Regions from separate parts of the Homo sapiens genome. Here region 2 is linked to region 1. The links come from fine-mapping of genetic effects on gene expression. Tissue or cell type: whole blood. Region 1 holds a variant in brackets; the other region holds the start of a gene. All regions are shown on one strand. Distances are between the middles of the regions.

Evidence for each region. PIP is the estimated chance that this variant, and not a neighbour inherited with it, causes the effect.
Region 2: it holds the start of MXD3, and the variant in region 1 is fine-mapped to the expression of MXD3 in whole blood (TOPMed, PIP above 0.99).

The regions. Positions count from the first base shown.
Region 1 is chr5:177,134,678-177,142,677 of GRCh38, reverse strand. NSD1 (nuclear receptor binding SET domain protein 1) reads right to left here. Exons shown (of 23, transcript NM_022455.5): 2 at 6,648-7,591. The coding sequence starts at 7,574. Among named protein-coding and RNA genes, the nearest start is that of NSD1, 4.9 kb to the right of the region's middle. RefSeq lists an enhancer at 7,703-8,000. The variant G/T (reference allele first, on the strand shown) is at 4,588.
Region 2 is chr5:177,307,324-177,315,451 of GRCh38, reverse strand. It overlaps MXD3 (MAX dimerization protein 3), which reads left to right and starts at 3,554. Exons shown (of 6, transcript NM_031300.4): 1 at 3,554-3,691; 2 at 3,968-4,073; 3 at 4,755-4,784; 4 at 4,912-5,026; 5 at 7,488-7,671; 6 at 7,749-8,128. The coding sequence starts at 3,622. The coding sequence ends at 7,864. RefSeq lists enhancers at 2,420-2,479, 4,130-4,329, 4,587-5,453, 5,700-5,749, 5,820-5,889 and 1 more and silencers at 2,700-3,269, 3,400-3,579.

The sequences.
Region 1 (8,000 bases):
ACTGAGGGCATCTGTAAAATTTTGTAATAGTAAAAACATTCAACTATACAGCACGGCATATAAGCCTATCTTTATACCTTTATCTCCTGACAACCCCACTCCTCCCAGATAGCTAGCCAAGGATTTCTGGCCACTTGCATATGCTATTCCCTCTTACTGGTATGTCTCTGCTTAAACTATAAATAACCACTCTGTGAAGTCCTCCCTGATTATTCTAGGCATGCCTTCCTCCACACTCCCAAAGTACTGCATACATAACACCTACCAGACCACTTAGTATTCTGTATTGTCATTGTTTACACTAGTTTTTGCCACACAGTGAAGTTCCTTAAAAGCAAACTATCTCTTTCCTTTTTTTAATTTTTTTATTTTTTATTATACTGGCAGTGCCTGGCTCAAGAGGTACTCAAATGTATTTTAATCATTTAAATGATTGACTGCAAGGTTTCCAGCTTTGAGATGAATAGGATAATGATGTCATCATGAACACAGAAGTAAATGCGTGTTTGGCAATAAAAGAGATGGGTTCAAAATGAAAATAATAGGCTGGGCGCAGTGGCTCATGCCTGTAATCCCAGCACTTTGGGAAGCAGAGGCAGGCGTATCACTTGAGGTCAGGAGTTTGAGACCAGCATGGCCAACATGGCAAAACCCTGTCTCTACTAAAAATACAAAAATTAGCCAGGCATGGTGGTGGGCGCCTGTAGTCCCAGCTACTTAGGAGGCTGAGGCAGGAGAATCACTTGAACCCAGAAGGCAGAGGTTGCAGTGAGCCGAGATGGCACCACTGCACTACAGCCTGGGTGACAGAGAAAGACCCTGTCCAAAGGAAAAATAAAAAAGGAAATAATATTACATTTTAGGTGAATATAACACAAGGTAGAGGAGCAGCTTAGTTGACAAGTAGAATTTGTTGGTTTGAAGTCAGTTCAGAAGAGAGTTTCATAGAGTGGAGTAGCAGCAGAATCAATGAAAGTGAATGAGACTGCAGAGAAAGAGGAAGAAAAAGAGAACAAGGACGCAAAAAAGGACTGTTTGAGAAGTGGTATGCAGGTCGTGGTGGCTCACACCTGTAATTCCAGCACTTTGAAAGACTGAAGCAGGTGGATCACTTGAGGTTAGGGGTTCGAGACCAGCCTGGCCAACATGGTGAAACCTCTCTCTGCTAAAAATACAAAAATTAGCCAAGCATGGTGGAGGGCGCCTGCAATCCCAGCTACTTGGGAGGCTGAGGCACAAGAATCTCTTGAACCCAGGAGATGGAGGTTGCCGTGGGCTAAGGTCACACCACTGCACTCCAGCCTGGGCAACAGAGCAAGAATTCATCTTAAAAAAAAAAAAAAAAAAAAAAAAAAAAAGGCTGCGCGCGGTGGCTCACGCCTGTAATCCCAGCACTTTGGGAGGCCAAGGCGGGTGGATCACGAGGTCAGGAGTTCAAGACCAGCCTGGCCAAGATGGTGAAACCCCGTCTCTACTAAAAATATAAAAATTAGCTGGTTGCGGTGGCGGGCGCCTGTAATCCCAGCTACTCCAGAGGCTGAGGCAGAGAATTGCTTGAACCTGGGAGGCAGAGGTTGCAGTGAGCCGAGATCGCCCCACTGCACTCCAGCCTGGGTGACAGAGTGAGACTCTGTCTCAAAACAAAAACAAAAACAAACAAAAAAGGTCACCCAGCCAGGAGGGAATCGGAGAGAGAGCAGAACCTCAGGTGTGAAGAGATCAATTTTCTTCCAAGATAGCTAAGGAGGGAGTAGAAAATTGTGGGATGATGGGTAGAGAAGAGGAAGGAACCTCTGAGGAATCATTTTTGTCTCAGGCAGCAAAACTATAAGCCTTAGACATCATCTGCCTCATCTCTCTCCATTCCTCAAATCCAGACTCCAATCTGCCTCCAGATCAGGTAGCCCCCAAAAAGCTGCCAATTTTCTCCCTTTGAAATAATCTTTTAGATTTACCCCCTTTCTTTAGAGTACTCACTGTGCTCATTTTTTTTTTAAGAGACAGAATCTCATTATATTGCCTAGGTTGGAGTGCAGTGGCTATTCACAGGCACAATCACAGCTAATTGCAGCCTCAAGTGATCCTCCTGCCTCGGCCTCCAGAGTAGCTAGGACTACAGGTACATGCCACTGGGCCGATTCTTAAGTCTTAATTACTATTGCAACATACCCTACATCCTAACCTTGCCTCTAATCTCCTCTACTCAAAGTCTTCCAAACAGATTTTACATCACTTCTCAGCTAAAATCTCTCAAGGGCTGCCAGTTCCCATCACATCAATACCAAATGCTTCAGTCTGAATTTCTAGGCCCCATTACCTGACTACATCCATCCTACCCAAGCAATCTCCAACAAGTATCCTCTGAAAATGCCATGCTCATTTAATTCTCCACATCCAAAGCACCTAGCCTGTCTCAACAACAACAACAAAGCATAAAACCTTTGTACACTGGGAAGAATTAGAAAATATCAGCCCAATTAAATATAAAAGTACCAGGTCAGGATTATAAATTGTAATGACAATCACTTCACTGTATGCAGAGAAAATAAGAGCACATGATGGTAAACTGAAGAGGCTACTAATTCGTGACAAGAGGCAAACAGTCCACTTAGAGGTAGATACACAAAATAACAGAAAATATGACCCTTCTTTCTCTAATTCCAGACAGGAAATCTACAACCCTAATAACTACTCTTACCCACTGCCAAGAGAATTTTCTCCTTTTTTTTTTTTTTTGACAGGATCTTGCTCTGTTGCCTAGGCTGGAATGCAGTGGCATGATCATGGCTCACTGCAGTCTCAAACTTCTGGCCTCAAGTGATCCTACTACTGCCTCAGCCTCCTGAGTAGCTGGGACTACAGGCATACCACCACAACCAACTGAGTGTAGAGACAGGATCTCACTATGTTGCCCAGTCTAGTTTCAAACTCTGGGCCCCAAGCAATCCTTTTGTCTCGGCTTCCCAACTTGCTAGAATTACAGGTGTTAGCCACCAAGCCCAGCCAAAATTACAGACAAAAAGAGACAAATAGCAATTTGCTAAGGATTTTCTAAAATTCCCAGCATAGTAACAATACCTACTATATCAATAACTTAAATCAACTGTGAACAAGTTGAATACATTAATATCACATGACTACATAGAAAAGTTATTTTTAATTACACTTTTCTCAAGCTGTATTGCTTACCTAACTTTGCATTCTAAGATTGACCGCTTTTTTTTTTTTTTTTTGAGATGGAGTCTCCCTCTGTCTCAAGGCTGGAGTGCAGTGGCACAATCTCGGCTCACTGCAACCTCCGCCTCCCGGGTTCAAGTGATTCTCCTGCCTCAACCTCCCGAGCCTGCCACCACGCCCAGCTAATTTTTGTATTTTTAGTAGAGACGGGGTTTCACCATGTCGGCCAGGATGGTTTTTTTTTTTCTTGAGAGGGAGTTTCGCTCTTGTTGCCCAGGCTAGAGTGCAATGGGGCGATCTCAGCTCACTGCAACCTCAGCCTCCCGGGTTCAAGTGATTCTCCTGCCTCAGCCTCCCAAATAGCTGAGATTACAGGCTCCTGCCACCATGCCTAGCTAATTTTTTGTATTTTTAGTAGAGACGGGGTTTTGCCATGTTGGCCAGGCTGGTCTTGAAATCCTCATCTCAGGTGATCCACCCGCCTCAGCCTCCCAAAGTGCTGGGATTACAGGCGTGAGCCACCATGCCCACCCTGACCTCACTTTTTAAGTCCTCAGTCTGAGGCCGGGCTCCGTGGCTCACACCTGTAATCCCAGCACTTTGGGAGGCTGAGGCGGGTGGATCACCTGAGGTCAGGAGTTCGAGACCAGCTGGGCCAACATGGTAAAACCCCATCTCTACTAAAAATACAAAAATTAGCTGGGGTGGTGGTGCGCACCTGTAATCCCAGCTACTCAGAAGGCTGAGGCAGGAGAACTGCTTGAACCCAGAAGGCGGAGATTGCAGTGAGCCGAGATCATGCCATTGCACTCCAGCCTGGGCAACAAGAGTGAAACTTCGTCTCAAAAAAAAAAATGTCTTCAGTTTAAAAATATCAAAGGCAAAAATAAAGGCAATAGATTTCAATCACAACTTTGAACCAAATTCCTAAAATAATAAATTAGGGGATGGGTACGGTGGCTCACGCCTGTAATCCCAGCACTTTGGGAGGCCAAGGTGGGCGGATCACCTGAGGTCAGGAGTTCAAGACCAGCCTGGCCCACATGGTGAAACCTCGTCTCTAATAAAAATACAAAAAGTAGTCAGGCATGGTGGTGCACACCTGTAGTCCCAGCTACTCGGGAGGCTGAGGTGGGAGAATCGCTTGAACCCAGGAGGAGGTGGTTGAAGTGAGCTGAGATCGCGCCACTACACTCCAGCCTGGGTGACAGCATGACTGTGTCTCAAAAAAATAAATAAACTACATACTTGCTTCTTCAAGGTGATAAAGTCTTTGAGCAATTTCAATTTCTCCCTGAAAAAAAAACTTCTACATTTATACATTTGCTAACTCCCATTTTAGACATGTAACCTACTATCTAAAGGCTCCAATATTTTCAGTTTTTTGTTTGTTTGTTTGTTTGTTTTTTT[G/T]TTGTTTTTTTTTTTGAGACAGAGTTTCACTCTTATTTCCCAGTATGGAGTGCAATGGCGCAATCTTGGCTCACTGCAACCTCTGCCTCCTGGGTTCAAGCGATTCTCCTGCCTCAGCCTCTCGAGTAGCTGGGATTACAGTTGCCCACCATCACGCCCGGCTAATTTTTGTAGAGACGGAGTTTCACCATGTTGGCCAGACTGGTCTCAAACTCCTGACCTCAGGTGATCTGTCCACCTCAGCCTCCCAAAGTGCTGGGACTACAGGTGTGAGCCACCACACTCAGCCTTCATTTTTTTTTTAATAGAACCAATACTCCACTAACATCTCTTTGACGAGAAACAGGTTTACAATTCTATTTGTATGCTTCTAGAGAAACATCTATCTCCATTCTCAGATTTAAATTTATGTGCAAAAACAAAGACACGATATATATATAAAATAAATTTCAACGTGAACCCAAGAAAAAGGATTTGTCTGAGCTGCCAATAGGTTTTCAAAACAGCCTACCCACCCTAATGTGTAGGACAATTCAGACTCAAGATAACCACTAAAGCAAATTTTTTTAAATCTGCAATTGCCAAGAAACCAAGGAGTACCAAGGCATAATTAAGATACAAATCAACAGAAACAAAAGTGACACACCCACATTCTCCCTCTGTAACTTTAAAGAACAGCAGGGATATAAGGTAAAGCGAATGTTTAATGAACTCAGAATAACAACATACCATAAAAGTTTTTCTTATAAAAACTGAATGTGGTATGAGACATTTGTTGGCCAAAAAAAATTCTCTTTGCTAACATTACCGGCGGTGACCAAACAATGTGTTTGGGCAGAAACAAAATCAATATCAAATATTAATATTTAAAGCTGAAGGAATCTTATAGCAATCAAGAACTTCTGGAATTTAGACGCAATAAAATTGAGGCTAAGAGAAGTGAACTGATCATTTAGCTAGAAAGTCAAGAAATTCTTCATAAGCTCAAATAAAAACAAATGTTATCATTTATCACCCTCTAACAATACTTGACAGCATTACTGAAAACAACAACTCAAATAAGATACTCTCCATTTCTATACACACGGAATATATACATATCACACATACACATACACACTTCAAAATCTGAAACTACTGTAGTTCTAGCTGATGCAGGAGGATCGAATGAGCCCAGGAGTCCCGACGCCAGCCTGGGCAACATGACAAGGCCAGTCTCTAAACAATAAATAAATATAAAACTTTGTCTTAGTTAGGGTTCTGTTAAAATAAAATAAAATAAAACAAAACAAAACTAGAAAAACTTCAAGAGCTAATGGTGATACAAAAATTAGCCGGGCGTGGTGATGGGTACCAGTAATCCCAGCTACTCGGGAGGGTGAGGCAGGAGAATTGCTTGAACCCAAGAGGCAGAGGTTGCAGTGATCAACCACTGCACTCCAGCCTGGCAACAGAGTGAGACTCCACCTCAAAAAAAAAAAAAAGAGCTAATGGTGGCAGTTATCAAAAGCACAGGATGCTATACCTTCAAAACAGGTAGTTCAGAAAAACTAGCCTAATTTAGATTTTGACAATGTCCAAGAAAACTTCATCTTAGCCACTTTAATCTGTGTTCAAAATGCCCTTCAACCTGAAGTAAGAGTCAAGTCATCAAGTAAAAAAATAATCTGCCACATATAGCAACAGGACTCCAAGTACTAAATTGGTTCACCTGCACTCATGGTGCTGGCAGGCCAAAACCCATCTTTTTTTTTTTTTTTTAATCATATATGTATACCTCCAACTTGAGAAATTAAACCTGAACTCAATCAAATGCCTTTAAAAGCATTAGCCTACTCTCAATGAAGAGTTATTTGGAAAAAGCTTAAAACAACCAAATTCATACAACAGAGATAAATTTAAAAATCAAAGTAAAATTTTGCCCAAAGCTTATGATTAGCAATAGGATTTCAGCTGTGAACTGATAAGCAACCAAAAACAAATTTGTTACAAGTTTCCCTTTAAGTGGCCTGTATATATACATATATGTATATATTTAAGTTGTACCAAAAACTGCTTACAAATGGCAATTCCTGTGAAGTAGATGATGATGAAGTTCCAGGTAATTCTAGCATGTTTCCTAATGTACTGGTACTGGAATCTGGATCATCCTGAAAAGATAAATTTATTGAGTTTAATTGCTCTTCTATTGTAATGTTTGTGTCTCCTAGTGAAAAGGGGGCTGGGAGAAGGGCTGCTTTTTCATTGCTGCCGTCCACTTCATTTCTTTGCTTATTTTTCTGTGTTTCAGTCTGAGGAGCTAATGGCAAGAATGGCGATTTGACTGCACCGTGTCTACTCTCTGGTGTGCTGTCTTGTTCACTTCCCATGGCCACTTTTACACCATTCTCTGATTTAGTCTCATAATTGCAGGTGGCATTGGTCTGAGTTTCCTCAAAGATCTCCTCTATACTCTCATCCTCTGTGACTGGCTGTTCTGGGTCCATTTCAGAATCTACATCTGCATCGTCCACACAAGTAAAATTCTCAAAGTGCAGAAAGCCATTCTTGATAGTCTTTGTTACTTTTACCTGGAGTTCAGGGGAGTTATTACAAGAGGGTTCCTGTTTCATAGCAAGTGCTGTAGGACCACCAGGACTCAAGGAAGTGCAAACAATTGGCGTCTGAGCTCTTGAATCACTTTTTTCAGGGTCTTGAAAGGATTCTGATCCATCAGCAGACCCATTTAAATACTCTACATTGATCATGGAGGCCAAATCCTGTAGTCTCCGCAGTGGAATGTAACAAGATGGAGAATCTTGTCCATAAGCATTTTGGGATGTTCCACTGACAGTCGATAACTGCATAGTACACCCATTAAGTGGCTCAGAAAAATTGGATTGACCATTACCGAAAGGGCTGTCCTTGTCTTCAGGGGCATCTAAATTCACTGGATTGGAAAAGGGCAGCAGACAATTTCTTCTGGGTAGTTCACAGGTCTGATCCATCCTGGGCCGGCATCAACCTGGAATCCAAAAGCACAGCAATTAATCTGAGTTAATAGGCCATCTGACTCGACTCTTTAAAATGGCAGCCACTTCAAGGCCTAGTGGCCTCTATGCCTTTCTGCTGCACTTCCATGGGCAGAAAAAGTTCCCCCGACTGGAGATGAAAAAATGGCCTCGATGAGCCTCTGAAAACTCCATTTTCCCGAAGCTGGGCCGATCCTGCTACATAGAAACAGCCCGTCTCTTTTTCCTCCTCTGTAGACTGGTGGACACTTGGGATGAACTAAAATTAAAACCCCTCTGCCCGTCAAAATTCCCAATTCTCAAACAGGACTAGTCCTCCCCCTCCCTCGCCAGGGGTCGAGCAGCTGGATCTCTCAAAAGCAAAAGGCTGCGGGGTCCGAGGGGGGCTCCTGGACCCTGCAC
Region 2 (8,128 bases), 170 kb before region 1:
GGCCAAGCCCCTGTTCGGCATTGGTTTGCTCTGTCGCTGAGGTCGTAGTCTGCAGGAAGAGGCTGACCCTGAGAGATGCAGGGCCCACTGCTACTTGGGAGAATGCGCTGAAGGAGGGAGGCCTGGGAACCTCCTGGAGCAAGTGACATTGAGCAGAGATGGCAGAGGCAGGGAGGTGGGCAAGGCCATGGCATGTCCCCTGCCCAGCTCAAACTTTGTCCTGAAGGCCATGGGAGCGTGGGCCTTCAGCGGGGGCATGAGGCCTTCAGTGGGGGCGTGACCTGGTTAGCTCTGTGACTGGGGAGTGCTGCTCTCTGGGAGAGGGGAGGCTGCGGGCAGCCCAGGGAGGAGGCTGGGCAGGGTTCCAGGGTCGGAGCCAGGCTCCCGACTCCCCCGATGACTCTTCCTTGCAGGGGAGAAGGGGAAAGGGATCTGGGGAACGCAGGGCCATCTCCTCCTGCACCATGGAGTGTCCATGGAGTGGAGGAGGACGGTGAGCCCAGGATTGGCTCCCCTCTTCAAGGGGTCCTAACTGGGACAAAGGCCTGGGGCGGGGGGGTCTCCCTTCTCCCCTTCCACTCAGGGCACAGATGCAGACTCTGTCCTTGGAGCCCAGAGGACCATAGACCCGGGTAGAGTCTGCACTGCAAGTACAGGCAGCAGAACCCCAGTTACAGTGGGCTGGTGGAGGCAGGAGGTCACAGGGCGAAGCGCAGGACCCTGCGGACTCCAGGGCAGAGGATCTGGGCTGGTCACTGCTGGGGGGGCACTGCAGCTCCTCTGTCCAGTCCTGTGCCTAGAGGCCACTAGCTCTAGCATTTTCTCACAGGGGCCCAGGGGACATCCAAGGGCTTGGGGCAGGATCCCTGCTGGTCCAGGCTGGATCCCCCCATGCCCCGTCCCATCCTGTTCCTGGGGAGGTATTGTTCCTGTCTGGCCTGGCCGGTGGCCTTGACCCCAGCCCACATGCTGTCCCTGGCTCAAAACCGCTCTGCAGCTCCTAGGATGAAGTCCAAACTCCTTGACATGAGCCCTCCAGCCCCTCTGCAGCCCCACCCCGACTCCCACCACCTCCTGGCCATGTCTTCAGCTCACATATGCTTCCTTCTTTCCCTTTGCTGAAAATTCTCCTCCTTCAGAACCTCCCCACCCCTATCCCACCCAGACTGGAGGCCAGGCCACCTAGGGCCCAGACATCTGAGTAGGTTCGTGTCTGCACTGCATGGTGCTGACTTTAGTGAAATAAAATTGGAAATTCATTCACAACCCTTGCGGCTCCTTCCTTCAGAGATGGCTGATTGCAGGGGGGAGTTTGGGGGAACCCATCAGCATGTTCTGGGCCCTGCAGCCTCTCCAGTGTCAGCCTGCACCAGGCTATTTGCTCTCTGTAAGCCACACCGCCCCTGCCATGCTCCTTTCAGCCCCAGGGCCTTTGCATGTGCTGTTCCTTTGTCTAGAATTCTTTCATCTCTCCTATACTTAGATAACACCTCTTCATCCATTTCCCCAGTAAAGCCTTCTCTGGCCTCACCAATTAGGTCAAATGTTCCTTAGAATGTGTTGTGGGGCATGGTCTCTCCCTGTGAGGACCTGTCCAGCTGGACCTCCGCCTTCCTGCGACTGTATTGGTGTCTTTCCCTCTCAAGCCTATGAGCTCTGCAAGGGCAGGGACCCTGTATGATTTTGCCTATCGTATGTCCTCCAGCCCCCAGCACAGCGCCTGGTGTCCAGTGAGAGCTCAGCAAATACTTTGTGAGTTAAGGACAGGCGGCTGGGTAGATGGATCGTCTGCCTAGACAGGGCAGTTATTCCGCTGTGAGCAACTCTTAGAGAAACTTCATTTTTTTTCGGCGCCTGGCCGAAACTTCAAGATGTTTCCCGGCCAGGAACGGTGGCTCACACCTGTAATCCCAGCACTTTGGGAGGCTGAGGTGGGTGGATCACCTGAGGTCAGGAGTTCGAGACCAGCCTGGCCAACACGGTGAAACCCCGTCTCTACTAAAAATACAAAAATTAGCTGGGTGTGGTGGTGGGCGCTTGTAGTCTCAGCTACTTGGGAGGCTGAGGCAGGAGAATTGCTTGAACCCGGGAGGCGGAGGTTGCAGTGAGTCGAGACTGAGCCATTGCGCTTCAGCCTGGGCAACAGAGCAAGACTCAAAAAAAAAAAAAAGATTTTTCCCAAGGAACTGAGGCCTGACTGACATGTGCTTGTGTTTACCAGGACTGTCTCTTTACAGAGCATCTATCCCTCCCACCTTCCCTCCCCTCTCTATTTTGGGATTACTGGAGTCACAGACTCAGCCCGTGGCTGGCAGCAATGCTCCACCCTGCTACAGCTGCGTTCATCTTCCTGTCCCCAGATGTGGCCCCACCTGCTGGTGCTGAGGCTAGAAGTCATCACAGCCACTCCTTCGGCCGGCTAGGAGAGTCAGGTGCAAGAAGGGTTTATGGACTCTGAGTAAGGCAAGCAGGGGCTGCCTGGGAGGCAAACGCCGCGGTCTGGTTGCACTGGCCTTTGAGATGGGCGGCTCCTTCATGCCATGGGCACCGCAGAGGCATTGGCTCTGATCCTTCAACGCTGTCGCAGGGCTCCTGAGGCTTAGAGACGGAGGTCACCTCCTGAGTCATACACAGCTGAGACATCAGTGACAGGAGAGGACCCCAACTGCGTGGATACCAGAGCCCAAGGCCCCGGAAAAGGCCATTTCGCGTGCCTCCAGGGTATGGCCTGCCTGAGGAAGCTGTTACCCCACTGACGTTTTCGTAGCAACAACAGCTTCCTCACAGAAGAGGAGGGGGGCCGAGATATTATTCCCATTCGACACAGTAGGAAGCTGGGGCCCACGGGGGCCTTCGGGGGCAGATGGCAGGCAGGCTTGGGGACAGACCCCGGAGGGCAGGAGCCGGGTCCGCCGCCCCTCCGCCGGCGCCTGCGCATTGAGGCCCAGCTCCCCTCTCAACCCCGCCCCATCGCTTGGGTTTTCAAATTTGAAACCTGCTTCTTTTCCCGCCCGAACGTGTGGATCAGCGGCGGGAGAGGGCGGGGCAGAGCGCCAGCCAATAGGGCATCAGAGGCTCCCCGACCCCGCCCCGAGGATGACAACAGCGATCCTTGAGAAGCCATGTGCGAATGGGCGAGCGGCGGCCGGAGGCCCCGCCCCCGCGGCACCCACGTGCAGCGGCTGGGCCCGGCGCTTTCAGGGGACCACCAGGCCCCCAGAGCGCCGTGCTATGTTGGGGGCTAGTCACTAGCACGGGGCTGGAAGCTGAGATCAAAGACGCCAATGAGCCGGCGTGGGTGGATGAGTGAGGCGGGCAAGAAGCAGCACCGGTTAGCCTGAGGGTTCGCTCCAGGGCCAGGCCTGGAGCCAGCGCCCTTACCTGCCCCTGGAAAGTCTGAGACCACTCGGGGCGGGGCGGCTGCCGGAGGGTGGGCTGCGGCTCCGTGGCGGGTTCCAGAGGGGCGGAGCCAAGGGCTGGGCGTTCCCGCGGGCGGGGCGTCCCGGGGGCGGGGCGGGCCCCTGTGTTTGTTGCACCGTGTCAGTTACTTTGTAACAAAAGTGCTGCAGCCGCTTGCTCCGGCCGGCACCCTAGGCCGGCCCGCCGCCAGCTGTCGCCGACATGGAACCCTTGGCCAGCAACATCCAGGTCCTGCTGCAGGCGGCCGAGTTCCTGGAGCGCCGTGAGAGAGGTGAGGAAGGACCCTTGGCTGAATTCCGGGCGGCGACCTCGCTGACACGGGCCTGGACTGGACCTGGCTCCCAGCTTGAAGGATGCACCGCCCTAGGACAGTAATCCCGGGGCGCCTCGCCCTCAACTCGAGAGGAGTCCCGGGGCGGTAGAGCAGGGACGGGTGGGGGAAATGGTCCTGGCGCCAAAAGCCTTTCCTTGACCGTGCTGTGCCTGGGGCTGCCGCTGGGACCAGGTCCAGCCCCAGCCTGACGCGGGCGGGGACTCTCTCTGGCAGAGGCCGAGCATGGTTATGCGTCCCTGTGCCCGCATCGCAGTCCAGGCCCCATCCACAGGAGGAAGAAGCGACCCCCCCAGGCTCCTGGCGCGCAGGACAGCGGGCGGTGAGGAGGCCGGGGGCGGCGGGAGTGGGGGTGGGGGTGGGCGCCGCCCCTGGTCGGGCCCTCCTCTGCCCACTTGTTGCTTGCATCTTTTGGGCCAGGTGTCCCGCTCCAGGAAGCGTTCAGACCCCTCCTGCCATCTCCCCACTCTCCAAACACACTCACACCTTTCTATTCATTCAAGGACTATTTCTTGAGCACCTCTAGATGTGCCGGGAACTGCCAACAGCAGTTGGGGTCCCGCTTCCACTCGCACTCCCGCACCCCACACATCAGGCCACTCACCTCCCCCGCTGGCTTCCTCCTCTTCTCTCCTCTCCCCAGCCCTTTGCATATGCTGTTCCCTCCTATTTGAATGCCCCTCCCTCCAGTACCGGCTTGGGAAACATCTGTTTCCGCAGTTAGCTGTCACCTCTGGGAGGTCCTTTCTGGCCAGCTGGCAGGCGCCCTTGTTAGGGCCCTCATACCCACCTGGGCAGGCTTCTGTTAAGCATTTGGCTCCGTGTGTCTTTGACTCCCCTCGCCCTGCCAGGGGACTCTGGTGTCTGAGGCCAGCATGAGCTCTCCACAGGGGACTTGTTTGGGGCAGACATCTGTAGTGGCTCTTGAGCCACTGGGGGCCCTGGGATTGGGGCATGGGCAGTAGCTGATTCCCCTTCACCTCATCCTCTCTGGCATTGGCAGGTCAGTGCACAATGAACTGGAGAAGCGCAGGTGAGTCCCAGTCCTGCCCTGACAGCGCCAGCCCCCAGGGGCCACTGCCCTCTGGCCTTCCCTCCCCTGCCATTCCTGTGGCCGGCAAGGTGGGGCTGGCACTGCCCTCCAGACCTCTTCCCCACAGGAGGGCCCAGTTGAAGCGGTGCCTGGAGCGGCTGAAGCAGCAGATGCCCCTGGGGGCCGACTGTGCCCGGTACACCACGCTGAGCCTGCTGCGCCGTGCCAGGATGCACATCCAGGTGAGGCCCCCCACTGCGCCCGGACTGGCTTGCCCTGGTGTATGGAGGGCTGTGCTATGGAGGGGCTGGTGGGACTGGGGAACGAGACCTGAGGTCAGAGCTCAAGAACTGTGTGACTTAGGACAGCTCTCTGAGCTTTTACTTTCCAGATCCATTAAATGGGAAGAAAAGCAGACAATAACTCAGAGGGTTGTTGAGGCTTAAATGAGTTCACTCTATAAATGTTCACTGTTGCTGTTACAGCTGTTATCACTTAGATCACAGCTGTGAGACCTTGGGCAGGTTACTTAGCCTGTCTGGACTAACCTTCCCTCCTGTTTGAGGGGAGGGGATGGCTGTTGAATTCTGTGATGGGATGTATGTGGGGGTCCTTGGGACTGTAGAGGGTTGGTCCTTGCTCTCCCCCTCTCACCTTCAAGGCCTCCTGTTATGGGCAGTCTATCCTGGTGCCACCTGGGAGGCAGCTCCAGGGACAGGAGGGGAAAGGACTGAGAAGACGCCAGTCACTGGTCCTCCCAGGGCTCCTGCTGCTGCTGGGGCTGAGCTCAGTGCCCCCTGGTGGACAGGAGTGGATGTGCTGAATAAAGGCCCAGGTGGCCCTGGCCATGTCAGAAGTGGCCTTGGAAACCACAGGACTTTTCCTGCCCTCTAGAGGAATACATGAAGGCACAGCTAGGCTGAGGGCCAACAAGTTGCACAGCTGATGGGCGGCAGATTCAGGACCCATGCCCAGTTCCCTGGCTTGCGTTATCTCCTCTGACAAGTGTTTACTGAGCACTGGTTCTGCTAGGCCCTATTCTAGGCACTGGGGGCTGTGGCACACAAAGACCTATGCGCTGTTAGTAAATAAACCACAGCTGCGGGAACAGCTGCACTGCCGCCCGGCGTCTGTTATTACCATCATTGTGGCTGAGTAACACTCTGGTTGGGTAGTGGCCCAGTTTCTCACACGGAGCTTGCCTGGCCTGGTTCTCGGATGGATGATGTGTGCCCCTCAGGGGCTGGCTGGCCTGTGGGCAGGACCTGGGCAGTGCTCCTTCTCTGGGGCTCCATCACCCCTCTCCTGGATTAATTCACCGGCCTCCTCCCAGCCTTCCTGTTACCTGTTTTGCCTCCACCAGGCTGTCTTCTACTTTGCTCTAGAATGATCTCTGCAGCACACCTATCTACCCAGGCCCATCTCCTGCTGAAAACCCACCAGTGGCCCCTGACAGGACAAAGCCTCTGCTCCCCTTCCTTCCTGTGAAACTCAAGGCCCTTCATAACCCAGGACTTGCCAGTAGGCTGCTCTTTTGGCCTCATCTCTCCCTGTGCCCCACAGAAGCTGAATGCTCTGTGCTCTTCCCAGGCTCCCTCTGCTGTGTCTTGACGTTTCTTCCTCCCTGTGTTTGCCTCGGCAGCTCTTATCTTTCTACGCCCAGTCCAAACGCCTCCATGGCCCAGTTCTCCCCTTCTTGTTGAATGACCGAATGTAAGCTTCTGCCCACTGAGGGCTCCGCCTGGGAGAGCCCTTGGCCTTCCAGTCCTTGGAACTTCAGGGCTGGCAGAGCTTGGCGGGAGGTAGGGGTATGGGAGGGAGGGTGCTAACGCCTTCACGCTCTCGCTCTTGTAGGGATCGTGACCAGGAGCTACAGACTGGTAGCCTTTGTTTGTTCTCTAGTTTTCTAAAAATTTAAATTAGCTGTCAATCCCTCAAAAGACATTTGACATGAAAAATCTGACTTTCCAGCTAGCTTCTCGTAAAGAAATGGGGGGCCGGGCGCGGTGGCTCACACCTATAATCTCAGCACTTTAGGAGGCTGAGGCAGGCGGATTACCTGAGGTCAGGAGTTTGAGACCAGCCTGACCAATATGGTGAAACCCCGTCTCCACTAAAAATACAAAAATTAGCTGGGCATGGTGGCGGGCCCCTGTAGTCCCAGCTACTTGTGAGGCCGAGACTAGGGAATTGCTTGAACTTAAGAGGTGGAGGTTGTGGTGAGCCGAGATTGTGCCACTGCACTCCAGCCTGGGCGACAGAGCGAGACTCTGTTTCAAAAAAAAAAAACAAAAAACAAAAGAAACGGGGAGACCTGGTAACACCGGGCCTGTTTCCCATGACAGCACATGCCTGGCTCCTGAGCCAGAGTGTACACGCAGCAGTGCACCCTGCTCCCAGTTCCCACCCCTGGACGCCACAGCACTCCAGTCCTTTATCCTTGACTAGGCCCCAAATGCCTTTGAGATTGTGGTGCCCCCCCACCCCCAATCTAGGCAGCACCCTGACAGGACGTGTGCATGGCCGGAAAGGGGCTGGCTTTCTGGAGGATGTGGGTGCAACCCTCTGGGGCCTGGATTTAGTCGCCACCTGCCCGGAGTGGGCATTGGCCCTGTGGCCGTGGCCCGGTACTGAGTGGTGCTGGGGTGCAGCCCAAGCCCCCACGCCGCTGACCCCAGCCCCTTGCTCCTTTGGGATCCGCAGAAGCTGGAGGATCAGGAGCAGCGGGCCCGACAGCTCAAGGAGAGGCTGCGCAGCAAGCAGCAGAGCCTGCAGCGGCAGCTGGAGCAGCTCCGGGGGCTGGCAGGGGCGGCCGAGCGGGAGCGGCTGCGGGCGGACAGTCTGGACTCCTCAGGCCTCTCCTCTGAGCGCTCAGACTCAGACCAAGGTGAGTGCCCCGAGGCTGAGGGGTTGTGTGGCCCTCGGGGCGAGCCAGGTCTTCTGACCGGACCCCTCCCCGCGCAGAGGAGCTGGAGGTGGATGTGGAGAGCCTGGTGTTTGGGGGTGAGGCCGAGCTGCTGCGGGGCTTCGTCGCCGGCCAGGAGCACAGCTACTCGCACGGCGGCGGCGCCTGGCTATGATGTTCCTCACCCAGGGCGGGCCTCTGCCCTCTACTCGTGCCAGGCCCACTTGCCAGGCAGGAGCCCTCCCCAAGCCTTCAGGGCTGCTCGGAGTCACCTGTTGGAATGGACTAAAAGGACCCTTGTGTGGGAACAGGTGCTCCCCAAACACCCTGCTGCTGGCTGCCAGGCAGGCCCTCTGGAAGGGAAGGGGCAGGACTCATCAGGACCTCCCTGGACCCCTGCAGGGCAGGCAGCTTGGGCCCGAGCCCAAGCATTTGGCTC